2 separate regions of the Homo sapiens genome follow, and region 2 is linked to region 1. Evidence: fine-mapped expression QTL. Tissue or cell type: whole blood. Region 1 holds a variant in brackets; the other region holds the start of a gene. All regions are shown on one strand. Distances are from middle to middle.

Region 1 (8,108 bases):
TGGTATTTAAGGTTTTTTTCTTGACTTGTTTAGTGTCTTGATTTCCTTTCACTTCAAACCAGTCAGGATTTGTGAAATAGAACAGAAGGCTTCTGTAATATTTGTTTTTCTAGAAGTTTGAAGATAGAAAATGCTTTAAGTAGTCAGTGCTTTAGATCTGTTCCTCTGGCTTGTGGCTTTAAAGAATTCAGATGTTGCATTTCTTTACTCTTTGTTTAACAAGTCTAACTTATTGATTATACTATCAGTATTTTCAGTTCAGCCAGATCTTGTTTTCTAGGAATATTTGAAAAAACTGTGGCTGCAAAGGGCTCTTTAGCTATAGAAAACATAATGTTTTAGCATGTATTAGTGCTTCCTTAGGCAGTCATTCAAATTATTTTGCATGCTCTGAGAATACATTAACTTGAAAATAGAGAAAGAGTTCCAGATGTTGAGTCTACAGAGTTACGCCAGGAGCAACCTAGGATTTAAATTTTTTCCACACATATTACATAGAATAAAGAATATGAGCATAATAACTGAGAGCTGGCAACACAACAATGTAAACAACTGCAATTATGATTTTTTCAAGAATATCTTTAGGACTGGGTGCAGTGGCTCACGCTTGTAATCCCAACACTTTGGGAGGCCGAGGCGAGTGGATCACCTAAGGTCAGAAGTTTGAGACCAGCCTGGCTAACATGGCGAAAACCCATCTGTACTAAAAATACAAAAATTACCCAGGCGTGGTGACACATACCTATAATCCCAGCTACTCGGGTGGCTGAGGCAGGAAAATCGCTTGAACCCGGGAGGCAGAGGTTGCAGTGAGCCGAGATTGCACCACTGCACTCCAGCGTGGGGAACAGAGTGAAACCCTGCCTCAAAAAAAAAAAAAAAAAAAAAAAAAAACAATCTTTAAAGCAAATACCTATTATATATTTTTCTTTTTATTAGAGTTATCAGCAGGTGGTATTTCATTTTTGTTGAAACTTTAAAAAAAACAGAAAAAAAAAAAAGACAAGGTCTCCGCCGGGCGCAGTGGTTCACGCCTGTAATCCCAGTACTTTGGGAAGCCGAGGTGGGTGGATCACGAGGTCAGGAGTTCCAGACCAGCCTGACCAACATGGTGAAACCCTGTCTCTACTAAAAATACAAAAAATTAGCTGGGCATGGTCGTGGGCGCCTGTAATCCCAGCTACTCGGGAGGCTGAGGCAGAGAATTACTTGAACCCAGGAGGCGGAGGTTGCAGTGAGCCAAGGTTGCACCACAGCACTCCAGTCTGGGCGACAGAGCAAGACGCCGTCTCAAAAAAAAAAAAAAGACAAGTTCTCACTCTCCCACTCAGGCTGGAGTGCAGTAGTGCAGTCATAGCTCACAGCAACCTCAAACTCCTGGGCTCCAGCGATCCTCCCGCCTCAGCCTCCCAAGTAGCTGGGACTACAGGTATGCACCACCACACTGCCTAATTTTTAAGTTTTTGTAGAGACCGGGTTTCCCTGTGTTGCCCAAGCTGGCCTCAAACTCCCAGGCTCAAGCAATCTTCCTACCTCAGCCTCCCAAAGTGTTGAGATTATAGACATGAGCCACTGCACTGGACAATGTTTTGTTTTGTTTTGTTTTTGAGACAGTCTCACTCTGTCGCCCAGGCTGGAGTACGATGGCGCAATCTCAGCTCACTGCAATCTCTGCCTCCTGGGCTCAAGTGATTCTCCTGCCTCAGCCTCCCGAGTAGCTGGGACTACAGGCAGCTGCCACCACGCCCGGCTAACTTTTGTATTTTTAGTAGAGACGGGGTTTCACCATGTTGGCCAGGCTGGTCTCGAACTCCTGCCCTCAAATGATCTACCCACCTCAGCCTCCCAAAGTGCTGGGATTACAGGCGTAAGCCACTGCACCTGGCCTGGACAATGTATTTTTTAATAATAAAACAAAAATATGTTATTCTTCCCACTCTCCAAAGAAAACTGTCCAAGCTGCCATATGCAAAAATGGAACAAAAAGCTGCAGAGAAAAGAGGAGAGTGTCTGTGAAGTCCTAGAAGGGAGAGTGATCAGGGACCCTCAAGGTGAGCTGCATGCCTAGAGGGTAGAATTTTAATAGGAAGAAAATGGAATGAATCTGGAGAGGGAAGCAGGAGAAAATGATGACATTGTCTGCTGGTTTCACAGAGGGTTTAGTCCCAAAGCTGAGCAAAGGTGATTTATTATCTGAAATTACTTAATTCTGGCCATTATTGCCCTAGTAATTAGCAAAAAGTTTGGCTCATTATGGGTTCCCAGTTGCATAGATTTGGGGTAAATGAATGATTGAATCAATAACTATTACATTATTATATAATCCATAAGCTGTAGGCCTTACAGTTTTTTCAATCACAACATTAAGCATCCTCTCGTTACAATGATTATCTTCTGGAGCCCACATTAGATTAGCATGGATGATGAGAAACATGCACAGTTCAAGGACTCATAAAAAACAGCACTGACCTGATGTGACTGAGAAGAGCTCCCCGAGTGTGTGGGCCATCTGAGCAGGCTTGGAGGCCGGTGTAGTCAGAGGTTTTTCAGACCTCGACAACCTTTGCTCTACCCTGCAGCCTGACCCCCATATGAAATTTTTTAGAGACCTTGTCCCATCACCTGTCAGCTGCTGTTGAAGGCACAGCTAGGGAGAAATGAACCAGGCTGCATTAGTGTGATCCATGCCTGGAAGTGCAATGCACAGAAGGCTTTGCCCTTCTTTTCAGAGGTGCAGGTACCAGTCTTCATCCTGCCTCCATGCAGCTGACTGACCCTGGGAGGCAGCCTTACTTTCTTCGCTGGTTCCCACATGAAGTTTTATCAGATCATTTGGGGAACTCTGTTGCCCGGTCATCCACGTACTATTTGGGAGGAAATAAAACTTGGAGATCACATAAACAAATCCCTTATCTTGCAAATAAAGTGAAACTCTCGGAGGCCTACCAGTTTCATTTTAAATTCTGACAAAATATGCAATGTTTATAAATAAATCATTGCCATTGTCTGGAATTGAACTTGACTATGGCTGTCTTTCTTTCTTTCTTTTCCTTCTTCCTTCCTTTTTTTTTTTTTCTTTTGAGACAGAGTCTCACTCTGTCACCCAGGCTGCAACCTCTGTCTCCCAGATTCAAGCTATTTTGTGCCTTAGCCACTCAAGTAGCTAGGATTACAGGCATGCGACACTACGCCTGGCTAATTTTTGTATTTTTCATAGAGACGGGGCTTTGTCACATTCCCAGGCTGGTCTCAAACTCCTGACCTCAAGTGATCCACCCACCTTGGCTTCCCAAATTGCTGGGATTATAGGCGTGAGCCACTGTGCCTGGCCCCTCCCTCCCTCCCTCCCTTTCTTCCTTCCTTCCTCCCTCCCTCCCTCCCTCCCTCCCTCCCTCCCTCCCTCCCTCCCTTCCTTCCTTCCTTCCTTCCTTCCCTCCCTCCTTCCTTCCTTCCTCTCTTCCTTCCTTCTTTTCTTTTCTTTTCTTTTCTTTCCGGAGTTTCATTCTTGTCGCCCAGGGAGGGAGGGAGGGAGGGAGGGAGAGAGGGAGGAACTTAGGGGGAAAAAGGACAAATGAATGATGATTCTCCATTCTCACTCAACAGATAGCAAAGATAACATTAATCTTTTATGTATCCTGCTGCAGTAAGCATGTTTTGTACATTATGAAACTGTTTTCCAAATAGAAAAGAAGGTGTTAGAAGGAGTGCTTTTGAGTTCGTTAGTCACTGCTCTCAGCTAAGCAGTAAAAGCTTTAAGTCCTTGAGGAAGGGCCTATTGGTGGAAGCCATTCCAAAGTTCCAGACCAAGCAGGAAAGAATCCTGCCATAAGATTGTCTTTGGGAGACAAACTTCAACTGTTTCCTAGCAGCC[T/C]ACCCTGCAGATTTTGGACTTGTACCCGCACATGAGCCAATTCCTTAAAATAAAGGACTTTTTAAGCCAAATCCTTAAAAAAATATTCCCACACCAAGAGCAGGCCCATTTATTTTATTCCTTATTTTAAGGAGTAAAAATCTATCTAATCTAATCTATCAAAAATGTTCAAAGTGACCAAGTTAATAATGGCCAAAAACTGGAACAGTCCAAATGGCCATTGCAGTACACTGATGTCATGAAGACCCTGCAGGAGCATGGTGACCAGGAATGAAAAGCACAGAGACAACACTGAGGGAAAGAGGCAAGTCACACAAAAAGATGTGCAATTATTCCATTTATAGGAAGGTGAAAAACCAGCTGGCCCAACTAAAAAATGCCAAAGAGTCTGAATAGACAGTTCTCTAAGACATACACATGACCAATAAGCACACAGTCATCAGGAAAATGTAAATCAAAGCCATAATGAGAGAACACTCACACTCACTAGCCTGCATAGAATCAGAAAGACAGATAGTAACAAGTGTTGACGAGGATGTGGAGAAATGGTAACCCTCATACACTGCTGGTAGGAATGTAAAATGGTATAGCCACTTTGGAAAACAGTCTGGTAATTCAAGTGGTTAAACATAGAGTTACCATATGACCCAGCAATTCCACTCCTAAGTATATATGCAAAAGAAAGGACAATGTCCACACAAACACTTGTACACTAATATTCATAGCAGCATTGTTCATAACAGCGAAAAAACAGAAACAACCCAACAAATGTCTATCAAATGACAAACAGATTTTTTTTTTTTTTTTTGAGGCAGAGTCTCACTCTGCCACCCAGGCTGGAGTGTAATGGCATGGCCTCAGATCACTGCAACCTCCACCTCCCAGATTCAAGCAATTCTCCTGCCTCAGTCTCCCAGGTAGTTGGGATTACAGGCATGAGCCATTACGACCGGCTAATTTTTGTATTTTTAGGATAGACAGGGTTTCACCACATTGGCCAGGTTGGTCTTGAACTCCTGACCTCAGGTGATCCACCCACTTCAGCCTCCCAAAGTGCTGGGATTACAGGCGTGTGCCACCACGCCCAGCCAACAGATTTTTTATTTTTTAATGTAATATATCAGCCAGGCACAGTAGCTGATGCCTGTAATCCCAACACTCTGGGAGGCCGAGGTGAGAGAATTGCTTGAGCCAAGGAGGTTGAGGCTGTAGTGAGCTATGATCGCACCACTATGCTCCAGCCTGGGTAAGAGAGCAAGACCCTGTCTCAAAAAAGAAAAAAGTAGTATATCCATACGGTGCAGTATTGTTCAGCCAGAAAAAGAAATAAAATATCCATTCCTGCTATAAAGGACCATATGCTGTATCATTCCATTTAGGCATGTATGTAGAGACCAAAAGTAGAAGAGTGGTTGCCTAACTGCTAATGGTCATAAGGTTCCTTTGTGGAGGAAAATATTCAAATTGATTATGGAGGTGATTTCATAACTCTGTGAATATATTAAAAACTACTGAGTTGTACACTTTAAATGGGTAAGTTGTATGGCATGTCACATGTCATATGTCAATAAAGTTGTTTTTTTAAAAAAACAGGAAAATAAAACAATGTATGAATTGAAGAGGCATACTCAGGTGATAAAATGATAAAGTCAACCAAGGTGTCAAAAGAACAAAAACTCTACGACCTCAGGGAGGAAGGAAATATCAAAAACAGTTCAACACATAGCATTATTTTAGAAAATTATGTATGTGTGCGTATATATATTTATATACTTAAACTCTATGAGGATATATCACATACTTCTTAGTTATATGTGGGTTGAGATCTTCTAAATTGTATAATAAGTGAATTTCAAAAATGACTCAAAAGTCTTCTGGTACCTGCAGATGGGCCTGCTCTTGGTGTAGGAATTTTTTTGCGGGGTGGCTGGAGGACGGAGTCTCACTCAGTTGCCCAGGCTGGAGTGCAGTGGCATGATCTCAGCTCACTGCAACCTCCACCTCCCAGGTTCAAGTGACTCTCCTGCCTCAGCCTCCTGAGTGGCTGAGATTACAGGCATGTGCCACCTCACCCGGCTAATTTTTGTGTTTTTAGCAGAGACGGGGTTTCATCATCCTGACCAGGCAGTCTCAAACTCCTGACCTCAAGTGATCAGCCCGCCTCAGCCTCCCAAAATCCTGGGAATGCAGGCATGAGCCATCGCGCCCGGCCATGGTGTAGGAATATTTCTGAAGTTTCAGGGAAAACATCTCCCCTCACCAGGCCCTGTGTGGATTTGTTGATGCCTGTGGCACAGGGAGTCTCTTGATACACCCTAAGGGGGTCATGGAGTCTTCTCCCCTACTGATGGAGAGCTGGAAGACACACTTGTCTCAATTTTCTCTCTTCTACATTTGTCTAGAGTCTGTTTGCAGCAGGGAAGAGGCCTCTGAATGCACTTCTGTGGGTCATTGAGAGATCTAAAGAAATAACTTCAGCCCTGCCGGGCAGACATGGCCCCCACCACACCTCCCCTCCTATTATGAGTCACAGAGACAGGCCCAGAGCATTAGTGGGGGTGCAGAGGGGCCTAACACCCTTCCCAGGGGCTGTTGGGTACCTGGGACAGATGCTTGCACCCCCACACACTGGTGCAAGAAGCTCCCACCCTTCCAGACAGCTGGCCTGACCAGCTGGAGCTGAGAACCCCACCCTTCTCAGAAATCCCTGCCACCATTCCTCAGGGCTACTGGACCAGCTCCTTGGCCAACAGCCTCCACACTGGGCCTTCTCTGCCACATTTAAAAACACCCCTCTAGGAATAACAAGTGTTGCTTTGAACCCCTCTGAGTAGTCACCCTCCTCTCCTGACTCAGATCCTGTGAATTTCCCACCTGCCTCTCACAGATGCACACTGGCCTCTCCACAGGGTTCCTATAAGGATATTCTCCCTGGAGATGAGTGTGACAGTTGATGTTTTCCAGAACTTCCTGTGCTTCACCTGCTGCCCCAGTATGGTGCTCTTTTGAGACAAACAACACAATTCTGATGTTGGTAGCAAAAGCACATGTTTATTTCCCAGCCAGAGCCAGATAGCAGCCTCCTTGGATGGGATGGGAACTAGCTAAAATATCACATGGGACATAAGGGCTCAAGGGAGAAGGGGGAGGCCTGAAGAAACGAGGAGATGCTGGGGATCCAGAGGAGGCACCACCAGGCAGATGCAGGAGGTAGAGAGAGACCAGCACCCCGCCTACTGGGGGTTCCCCAAGAGTGCCTCTCTCATCCCCTGGGGGCACGGTAAGCTCAACCAAACCCCACCAACCACACCCTCCCCTTCTACTATGAGTGAGTCACAGAGACAGGCCCAGAGTATTGGCGGGGATACAGAGGGACCTCATACACACACATTCATGAAATAAACATCTCCTCACAAAAATTCAGGGATCCAGCTCCTCCCCGAGCCCAGCCCTGTCTTGCCTGAGATCAGAGCCCTTCCCTGAGGCCTCAGGCATTACAATCCAAGTCAGTGTCCCCTGAACCCAGTCCTACCTTACAGGAGGGGCTCTGGCTTTATCAACACCCCTACCCTACCACACCTCAGAAGGCTAAACACCTCCTTTATGTCTTCCCCCAACACCACACCTCTCAGACTAGCACTGTGGAATGGACCCAGCGAAGGAGGAGAAGAGCAAATGAAGTCTCAGTCCTCCTGGGTGAGGTGGGGGCAGTGAGGGTGGCGGGTCTCTTCCCTGTGAAAACCTGAGGACTGAGAAAGTAAGCAACTTGGGGCCTGTTGGGCAAAGTCACCTCTCCAGGAGCCTTTTGGGCAGCACTGTGAGCTTGTTCTTGGGAAAGGCAGCATCATCTCTCTCCTCCGCTCCACCAGAGGCTCCACCTGGGCTCCTGCCACACCCACGTCTGCGACACTTTCCCTCTCCACTAATTGGAGGCCCAAGACTTGCAGGGAAGCAGAAGACAGAAGATGTCTCTCAGCTTCCAAGTGGAAGCACCCAGTCTCATCACTGGAATTTGAGCTTTCTTGATTTGGGGTGCACCTGGAGAATGAGCAGGGGGCACAGGCCTGTTCGGGGAAGGACAGGAGGGGTGTTCCAGGGTTCAGTTTATAATCGTGAAGATCTCCCTGTTTTCCTTTCTTTCTTAGGGACAGAGAATTCAAAACTCTCAGCCTTTTGCAATGGTCGGCAAGGGTTTTGGTGTGGACAGAGGGGCCGTCATCAAGGAGACCCACATCCC
Region 2 (8,108 bases), 55 kb after region 1:
TTTATTTAGAGACAAGGTCTTGCTCTGATGCCTAGGCTGGAGTGTAGTGGCACAATCATGGCTCACTGCCAACCATGACCTCTCAGGCTCAGGTGATCCTCCCACCTCAGCCTCACGAGTAGCTGGGACCACAGGTGTGTGTCACCGTGCCCAGCTAATTTTTTTGTAGAGACGGGGTTTCGCTATGTTGCACAGGCTGGTCTCAAACTCCTGGACTCAAGCAATCTGCTCACCTCTGCCTCCCAAAGTGTTAGCATTATAGGTGTGGGCCACCATGCCCCGCCTGAGTCATCTTTTAAAACTGCAAATTTGATCATGCTGCTTTCAGAAATAAAACCCTTCAATGAAAGATAATGTTTTGTGAAATTTGAAGTTACTAGCTTAAAAACAAGACCAAAAAAAAAGATGGAATAAAAATACAAGTAATGACAAATGTATTAGGAGCTACAGAGTATCCCACAAATTTGTCATTAATACTAATTGAATTATAATTTTAAAAAACCCAACCAAACCAATACCCTTTAATTGGTTCATATTCCTCTCAGGATAAAGTCCAAACTGCTGGTTGCAGGGCCTTTCATGTATCACAGGGCTCCTGCTAACCGTTTTGGCCTATGTTCTCACCCTCCCACTAACACACTCTGCAGCCATACTGGAGGACTCCGCCTTACTTTCACCTCTGAAAACTCTGACATGTTGTTATGCCCTAGCACCGGTCTTGCTCCCTAACTCCCCCATGTCCAAGTTCAGTGCCTCTCCTTCCGGCTTCTACAGCAACACCTGTCCCCATCTCCCTTATGACTGCGTGTCAAAGACAGAATAGTCACAACTCCTGCCTGTCTTGTTCATGGTGATATCTCAAGAACTGACCTCGGAGCCTGGTGCACAGTAGGTGTTCAGCAGTGACAGCGGAATGAATCTTACCACCTAACAGGAAACCTTATGCTCTCCCTTTGAGCACAATCCCACATGATAGGGCTCGGTGGGCCCTGCATGACTCATCCCAGGATGGGTTAATCTCCCCCACCTCTCTCCAGGCCCCTTGCTCCAGCAAGGCTATAGGAATGACCTGCAGTTAGTTTCTGGGCAGTTATGTTAGGCGCTGCTTCCCCAGTGCTCACACAGGTGCTGTGTGGAATTTGTTTTAAAACAAATTTGCTGCTGTCCTTGACCTTCCCACCCTTGATTGCAGGAAATATCTTCTTAACGTCTTTTATTTCACAGCACAGTGATTAGACATGTTATTGGCTCAAGTTATTGAGCCAATAACTTTTTTAGCTTTGTACTTTTCCCAGTCCATTAGCACAGAGCAGATGTTATTTATACTAGCAGTATAGATCAACTTCTAATAGGCAAAAACAAGACAACAACAACAACAAAAACCATCCCAACAGGTAATACTGAATGGTCTTAAGATTTTTGTCAATGGTGAATGGCACACATCCTTTGCGAGTGAACTTAACTTTTAAAAAGTAGCTCAAGGCCAAGCGCGGTGGCTCACACTTGTAATCCTAGCACTTTAGGAGGCCGAGGCAGACGGATCACTTGAGGTCAGGAGTTCAAGACCAGCCTGGCCAACATGGTGAAACCCTCTCTCTACTAAAAATACAAAAACTAGCCGGGCGTGGTGGCGCACGCCTGTAATCCCAGCAACGTGGGAGACTGAGACAGGAAAAATACTTGAACCCGGGAGTCAGAGGTTGCAGTTGAGCCGAGATCACGCCACTGCACTCCAGCGCGGGCGACAGGGCGAGACTCTGTCTCAAAAAAAAAAAAAAAGAAAAAAGAAAAGAAAGCTCAAAAATATATTCAAGGTAAATAAAAAAGTAGTTTCTTTTTAAGGGGAGAAAGAAGAGGGCATAAACAATAATACGCACACGAAATAAGTAGCACATAAGAGTACAAACTGGATCCACAAGCAATTCCTACTGCCCTGAAAAAACTATCCTAAGTCCAATTCACATCTGGAGGCGAGGGCTGGAGAGCCCTGAAAAAGGTAAGCAGGTTTTCAAAGACGTCAACGTAAAGTCGCCACCGCCGCCGTCTCCGCCTTTAAGGATTAAAAAAAAAAATAAAAGCCGCCCCTACCTCGGGCGCAAGACCTCAGAGGGAGAGCTGCGGCAGCTGCAGTGGCCTCAGGCCTTTAGCGTCTAAAGACTGGTTGCACCCCGACTCCACCTACCGGGCAACCACGCCGCCAGCCCCGCCTCCGCCTCCACCAATAGCGGCCCGGCGGCCCGGGCACGATGACCAATCGAACGCCGGAGGAGGCGTGGCGTCGCTGGGGGACCACGCGCCGTCCCAACAGGCTGGAAGGGTGCCGCCACGACTGGCCCCTCCAGGTAGGCCGCCGCCCGCGGGCGCACAGCGCTACCCGGCCAGCTCGCTGCGGCATCAACGGCTTCTCAGCGTCAGCGCTATTATCAGGCCTTGTGACCGTCCCAAATCTGCCCGGGTGCCCTTCCACCTGGCAGCCTACTCGCACCTTGTGGGGGCCGCGCGGGCACACTCCCCGGCACGCGTCCAGTCCAGGCCCCGGCAATTCCGCCCTTTACCGGGACATCGGCCCTACAGCGCCTGCCCCCAGGGCTGGCCTGCAGCTCCTGGCCTCTCCTCACTCCCTGCCCCCTTCTCAATTCCCTTAGTCAGACTCCTCTCCCGCCGCATCCTAAATCCTGAGCGCACCCTGGGGCGCGGAAAAGGGTAGCCGAGCCTTAGCAACGCCCCGAATTCTCCGGCCCGAGCCCGCGGTTCGGACCCCTGCCCTTCCTTCCCCGCAGTGCCCTCACCATAAGCGTTTCCACCGTGTCTCCGACATCTTGGGGTTGCAGCAGCGACGGACGTGAGTTCTGAATCATTGGAGATGAGGCCCGCGAGTCCTCTGGGCCCAGGGTGCCGTCGACGGGCGCTTGGGCCCAGCCCTGGAGGCCTTGAAGAAGGCTAGGGGGTGGCGCTAGCCAGGCGACGCGCTTTAAGCCGCGGGCTCTCTGACGTCTGCGCCTATAAGCACGCAGCCGCCGGGGTTCGGATCCTGCTAGTCCAGGGGCTGCGGGCGCGGAACAATCTTGCTGCGGGAATTACGCGCCGCTCTTCACCCGCGCCGCAGACTCCGCGGCTCTGCTCTCCTGCCCATCCTGCCCTGCTGCAGGCTTCAGCACCGTAGGAGATGAGGTTCTGTGTATCCCGGGGTGGAGGAAGCGCCGGAGGAACTCTGTAGAAGGGGAGATTTCGCTTCCGGGTGGGACGCTTGTCACGTGAGGGTGTTCTGAGTGCCACCTGGTGAAAACGCCCAGAACTGAAGGATCCGCGCTTCCTTGCACCCAGAACTTAATGGAGCGTCTGCAGGGAACTTTGCTTTTGCGTGGAACGTCTGAACGTATTTACAATCCAGACCTGGTCTGCCCAGTAAGGCAGCCACTAGCCAACGTGGGCTATTGATTTATTAATTGATACATTAATTTTAATTATATTAAAACAAGCAGTGTGGAATGCTTTCTCCTTAAACAGGCGTTTTTTTGTTTTGTTGTTTTTTTTTCAGGACCATATTTCCCTTTAAATGCTGAAAATTTAGTGTGGAATTGATATGTACTGTATGCATAAACCACACGCTGGATGTCTAAGACTGGTGAGGTAAAATCTCAATAATTTTTATATGTTGAAATGATATTTTGGATATATTGGGTTAGGTGAAATATTAAAATTAACTTCAGGCCGGGGGCAGTGGCCCAGGCCTGTAATCTCAGCACTTTGTGAGGCCTAGTCTGGAGGATTGCTTGAGGGAGCCAAGGAGTTGGAGACCAGCGTGGACGACAAAGCAAGACCCCGTCTCTAAAACAAATAATAATAACTTCATGTGTTTCTTTTTAAATGTGGCTAGTAAAACATTTAAACTTTAACATGTGGCTCCCATTACATTTCTGTAGGACAGCGCTGGTCTAGTTGGTCAAAATTCTGGTTTATTGCTCACCTGGAATCTGTCAATGGCTTTTTTGGTCTCCCAACTTCCCCTTATGCCTGTCTGGCTGATCCATGGAAAAGCATTACTGCTGGGATCCTGACACTCCTGTTGAAAATGCAGTGGCCCTGGTAATAAAGTCCAAGCTTTTCATAGCAACCTTCGCTACTTTCCACCTTCATTCATCACCCAAGAACTAGATCAGAAAGGAAAGTGACTTAGGGAGCAAGATAATATTTTTTCAGGCTTCATTCCTGTGCTTCTGAGGTACATAGAACAGGAAGGAAAGTGGTCCCAGAGGAGGTTATTCCCAGAAAGGATTAAGGAAAGTATAAACATTAAAAAAAAAAAAAAAATTACAGGCCGGGTGCGGTGGCTCACGCCTGTAATCCCAGCACTTTGGGAGGCCGAGGCGAGCCGATCACGAGGTCAGGAGATCGAGACCATCCTGGCTAACATGGTGAAATCCCGTCTCTGCTAAAAATATAGCCGGGTGTGGTGGCAGGCGCCTGTAGTCCCAGCTACTCGGGAGGCTGAAGCAGGAGAATGGCGTGAACCCAGGAAGTGGAGCTTGCAGTGGGCCGAGATCGTGCCACTGCACTGCAGCCTGGGCGACAGAGCGAGACTCCATCTCAAAAAACAAAACGAAACAAAATTACAAACCTGCCTGGTGATTGAATACTTTGCTACCCTTTGTTCTAAGCTGCAAGGCTTATTTTTCTTTGTGCAGTAGTGATGTTGATAACTATGCACTGAAACTTCTTTTTAAAGGAAGACCTAATTCCACCCTGACACCCACCCCCGCTGCACTGATTCCATAAGACAAGAATCCCTACTTTTGAGAAATCATGGGTTGGCGTATTTTAGAGACTGCTCTTGGCCACTCTGGGTGTGGGAACACAGGTGGGATCTAGAGTGAAAGCCGGCCCTCCACTCCCTCACCCTTCCAGGTATGCCTGCTTGGCTGTGGGCTCAGAAGAAATGGGCTGGCTTTCAAGGGTGGCAGCTGGCAGATTTCCCTCCTCTGTATCTGCTCCTGCCATGCTTACTCATAACTCTAAAGCCCACAGGCCCTTCTTTTCCCACATCTCCTCCCCTGGATGTTTGTGGGGATGCAGAGATATATAATGATCATGGGGAAAGAGCATCACCCATTGGCAGATGAGTGGGGGGTTTGGAGCAGTACTTAATGGCAAAGTTGGAGGAGTGAATTTTTTTTTTTAAAAAGAAAACATTGTGACTTTAATTCAAAACAAGGTCATTAGCATAAGGCAAGCCTTAATGGATTTATCTGCAGTCAAGGGAAGGTGATTTGGCTCTTATGACCTAACTTCCCTCAATTACACACTGGTCCCTCAAAGATCCAAAGTGGCCCATGTTTTCTGGATTGTATGATCAGGTTACATGATGTTTTCCCATCCCAAGGATTGTAGACACCCTCTACCCAGGAAGAAATACACATGTATCAGTTTGGATACATGACCTCCTCTTAAAACTTTATTCACAGCAAGTCTTGACATCTGGAGGAGTTTCCACCATCCAAGAAGGAAAAGGCAAAGGTCCACATGGGAAGCTGGAGGTGAATGGGAGAGACAGAGGCTGCTCAGATAGGGGCTTTGGTTTCCTGTCTGCCTGTCAGAGCAGGAGGAGGTGGGCCTTGCAGCACCTTGCATCTGCGTCACTTCATTTGTAAGAAGATGGCTGGAATGGTGAAAAGCACACAGGTAAATCACTGCCCCCACCTCCATGTTTCCAGCAGACCAGCTCAGCAAGATCTTTCTACCTGCCTGGAGCCAGAGCTGCTTCTGGAAATATCTAAATTTTCTCTTCTACTGATGCCAAAACAATGAGGCCAGCCTTTGCCTTTTGGAAACCAATAGGGGATTGAGAGGGGAGATACCATGCATTCTCTCTGCTACAACCTCCCTTACCGCCCATCTTCATCAGTCTCTCTATGCCTACTGGCCTCTCAGGTCTAATGGGCATCTTATGATAGTCTTCGTCCTGTAACTAATGGAGGCTCCTCTCCATCTGAATATCTGCTCCCATCCTAAACATGCACAACCTGAAAGAGAAGCCTTAAGAGTCTCCAAGGGCACTGTCTTCACCAGTGGGGGAAGCCACTCTTTGCCTGATCACAAGAATGGGTGAATACTGCAGAAAAAAAGGGAATTCTAATGGCTTTACCCAGAAACTTCCACAAAGAGGATGGTCCTGTCACTGCTTTTGGCTTCACAAGAAGGAAACACCTTTCTTCCTTCTGTGCCAGTGACTATTGCCTGTAACCTCACCCCTGAGCCAAGGGTGACCAGGCTACGAGAGAACAATGAGTTAGAGCGGCTTACAAGCTGGTATCCGAGGGAGGGGCAGATGGCTCTGTGGGGTGGACTGCGTTCCTGCAGGAGTGGGATCTTCACATTCTACTCCAAGGACCAAGTTGTTAGGGGCAGTGGAAGGGAGAGGAGCCATGGTGCGTGCCCAGGCAGTGTGGTGTTTTGTGTTTTGTCATATGGAAGCCACAAGTCACTCCATCAATATTTTGACAAAGCAGTTCCCCATCTTATGGAAAAAATCAAACTCTTCTTGTTTTCCTGCTTTCTTCACAATGAGGAAACGGGCAACATTTTGGCTAAAAGTTTATAAACATAAGCACATATTTTCTGGTCACAAATCTTCTAGGTCCTGATTGATCTGAATTTCCCACAGGGGTAAGCAGGACCCACTTGTGGTTTTGTGGTTTGCTTATAGCTCTATCCATATGTGGAAGGTTTTTTTTTTTTTTTTTTTGGAGACAGAGTTTCACTCTCGTTGTCCAGGCTGGAGTGCAATGCTGCGATCCCGGCTCACCACAACCTCCGCCTCCTGGGTTCATGCAATTCTCCTGCTTTAGCCTCCTGAGTAGCTGGGATTATAGGCATGCGCCACCACGCCTGGCTAATTTTGCATTTAGCAAAATTAGCAAAATGTTGGTCAGGCTGGTCTCAAACTCCCGACCTCAGGTGATCCGCCCACTTTGGCCTCCCAAAGTGCTGGGATTCCAGGCATGAGCCACCATGCCAGGCCAGCTTTTCTTTATCTTGGACAGAATGACTTCATTTATAAGCAGCATCTTGTGTAACAGTCAGTTTTATGTGTCAACTTGGCTAGGCTATAATACCCAGTTTTCAATTAAACACTAATCCAGGTGTTGCTGTGAAGGTATTTTGTAGATGTGGTTAACCTCTGTAATCAGTTGACTTTAAGTAAAGGAGATTATCTTTCATAATCTGGATGAAAGAAAATCAGGACACATATTTCCCTGACAAATACACCTTGTTTCCCTTCCTTAAAGGGTAGAGGCTATCTCCTGCTTTTTTCTGTGTGTCTTTGAGAGACCACTGAGGCAGAGTAATGCTGTAAAAAGAAAGTGGACTTTGGAATCAGGCATTGATTCTGTATTTGATCCTGGATTTGTCACCTGCTAGCTGTGTATTCACCTCAACTTTCTTGTTTGTTATTTTGAGATAAGTCTTGTGCTATTGCCCAGGCTGGAGTGCAATGGTGTAATCTCAGCTCACTGCAACCGCCGCCTCCCGGGCTCAAGTGATTCTCCTGCCTCAGCCTCCTGAGTAGCTGGGATTACAGGCGCACATCACCACGCCCAGCTAATTTTTGTTTTTTTAGTAGAGATGGAGTTTCACCATGTTGGCCAGGCTGGTCTCAAACTCCTTACCTCAGGTGATTGCCTGCCTCGGCCTCCCAAATTGCTGGGATTACAGATGTGAGCCACTGCGCCTGGCCAGTTTATGGGCCTTAATTAGAGGTCAAGAGTGAAGCCTCCCATATATAAAATTAAATACTTAGGGTAGATTCAGTGGCTCCGGCTTGTAATCCCAGCATTTTGGGAGGACGAGACAGCAGGATCTCTTGAGCCCAAGAGTTCAAGACCAGCCTGGGCAACATAACAAGACCTTGTCTCTACAAAAATAAAAACAGTAGCCAGGTGTGGTGGAATGAGCCTGTAGTCCCAGCTACTCGGAAGGTGGAGGCAGGACAGTCTCTTGAGCCCAGGAGTTCAAGGCTGCAGCAAACTATGACTGCACCACTGCACTCCAGCCTGGGTGACAGAGCAAGACCCTGTGTCTATGTTTTTTTAATTCCAAATACTTACCAA

What was found. PIP is the estimated chance that this variant, and not a neighbour inherited with it, causes the effect.
Region 2: it holds the start of SLC25A38, and the variant in region 1 is fine-mapped to the expression of SLC25A38 in whole blood (TOPMed, PIP above 0.99).

What each region holds. Positions count from the first base shown.
Region 1 is chr3:39,433,884-39,441,991 of GRCh38, reverse strand. No RefSeq gene overlaps it. Among named protein-coding and RNA genes, the nearest start is that of SNORA62, 27 kb to the right of the region's middle. The variant T/C (reference allele first, on the strand shown) is at 3,872.
Region 2 is chr3:39,378,475-39,386,582 of GRCh38, reverse strand. SLC25A38 (solute carrier family 25 member 38) reads right to left here and starts at 3,213. Exons shown (of 7, transcript NM_017875.4): 1 at 2,790-3,213. The coding sequence starts at 2,858. LOC105377037 (a long non-coding RNA gene) reads right to left here. Exons shown (of 3, transcript XR_001740661.3): 3 at 5,431-5,656. LOC105377644 (a long non-coding RNA gene) reads left to right here and starts at 2,258. Exons shown (of 3, transcript XR_007096252.1): 1 at 2,258-2,342; 2 at 3,539-3,630; 3 at 5,463-7,152. RefSeq lists enhancers at 2,005-2,074, 2,545-2,594, 2,605-2,704, 2,725-2,904 and a silencer at 2,165-2,314.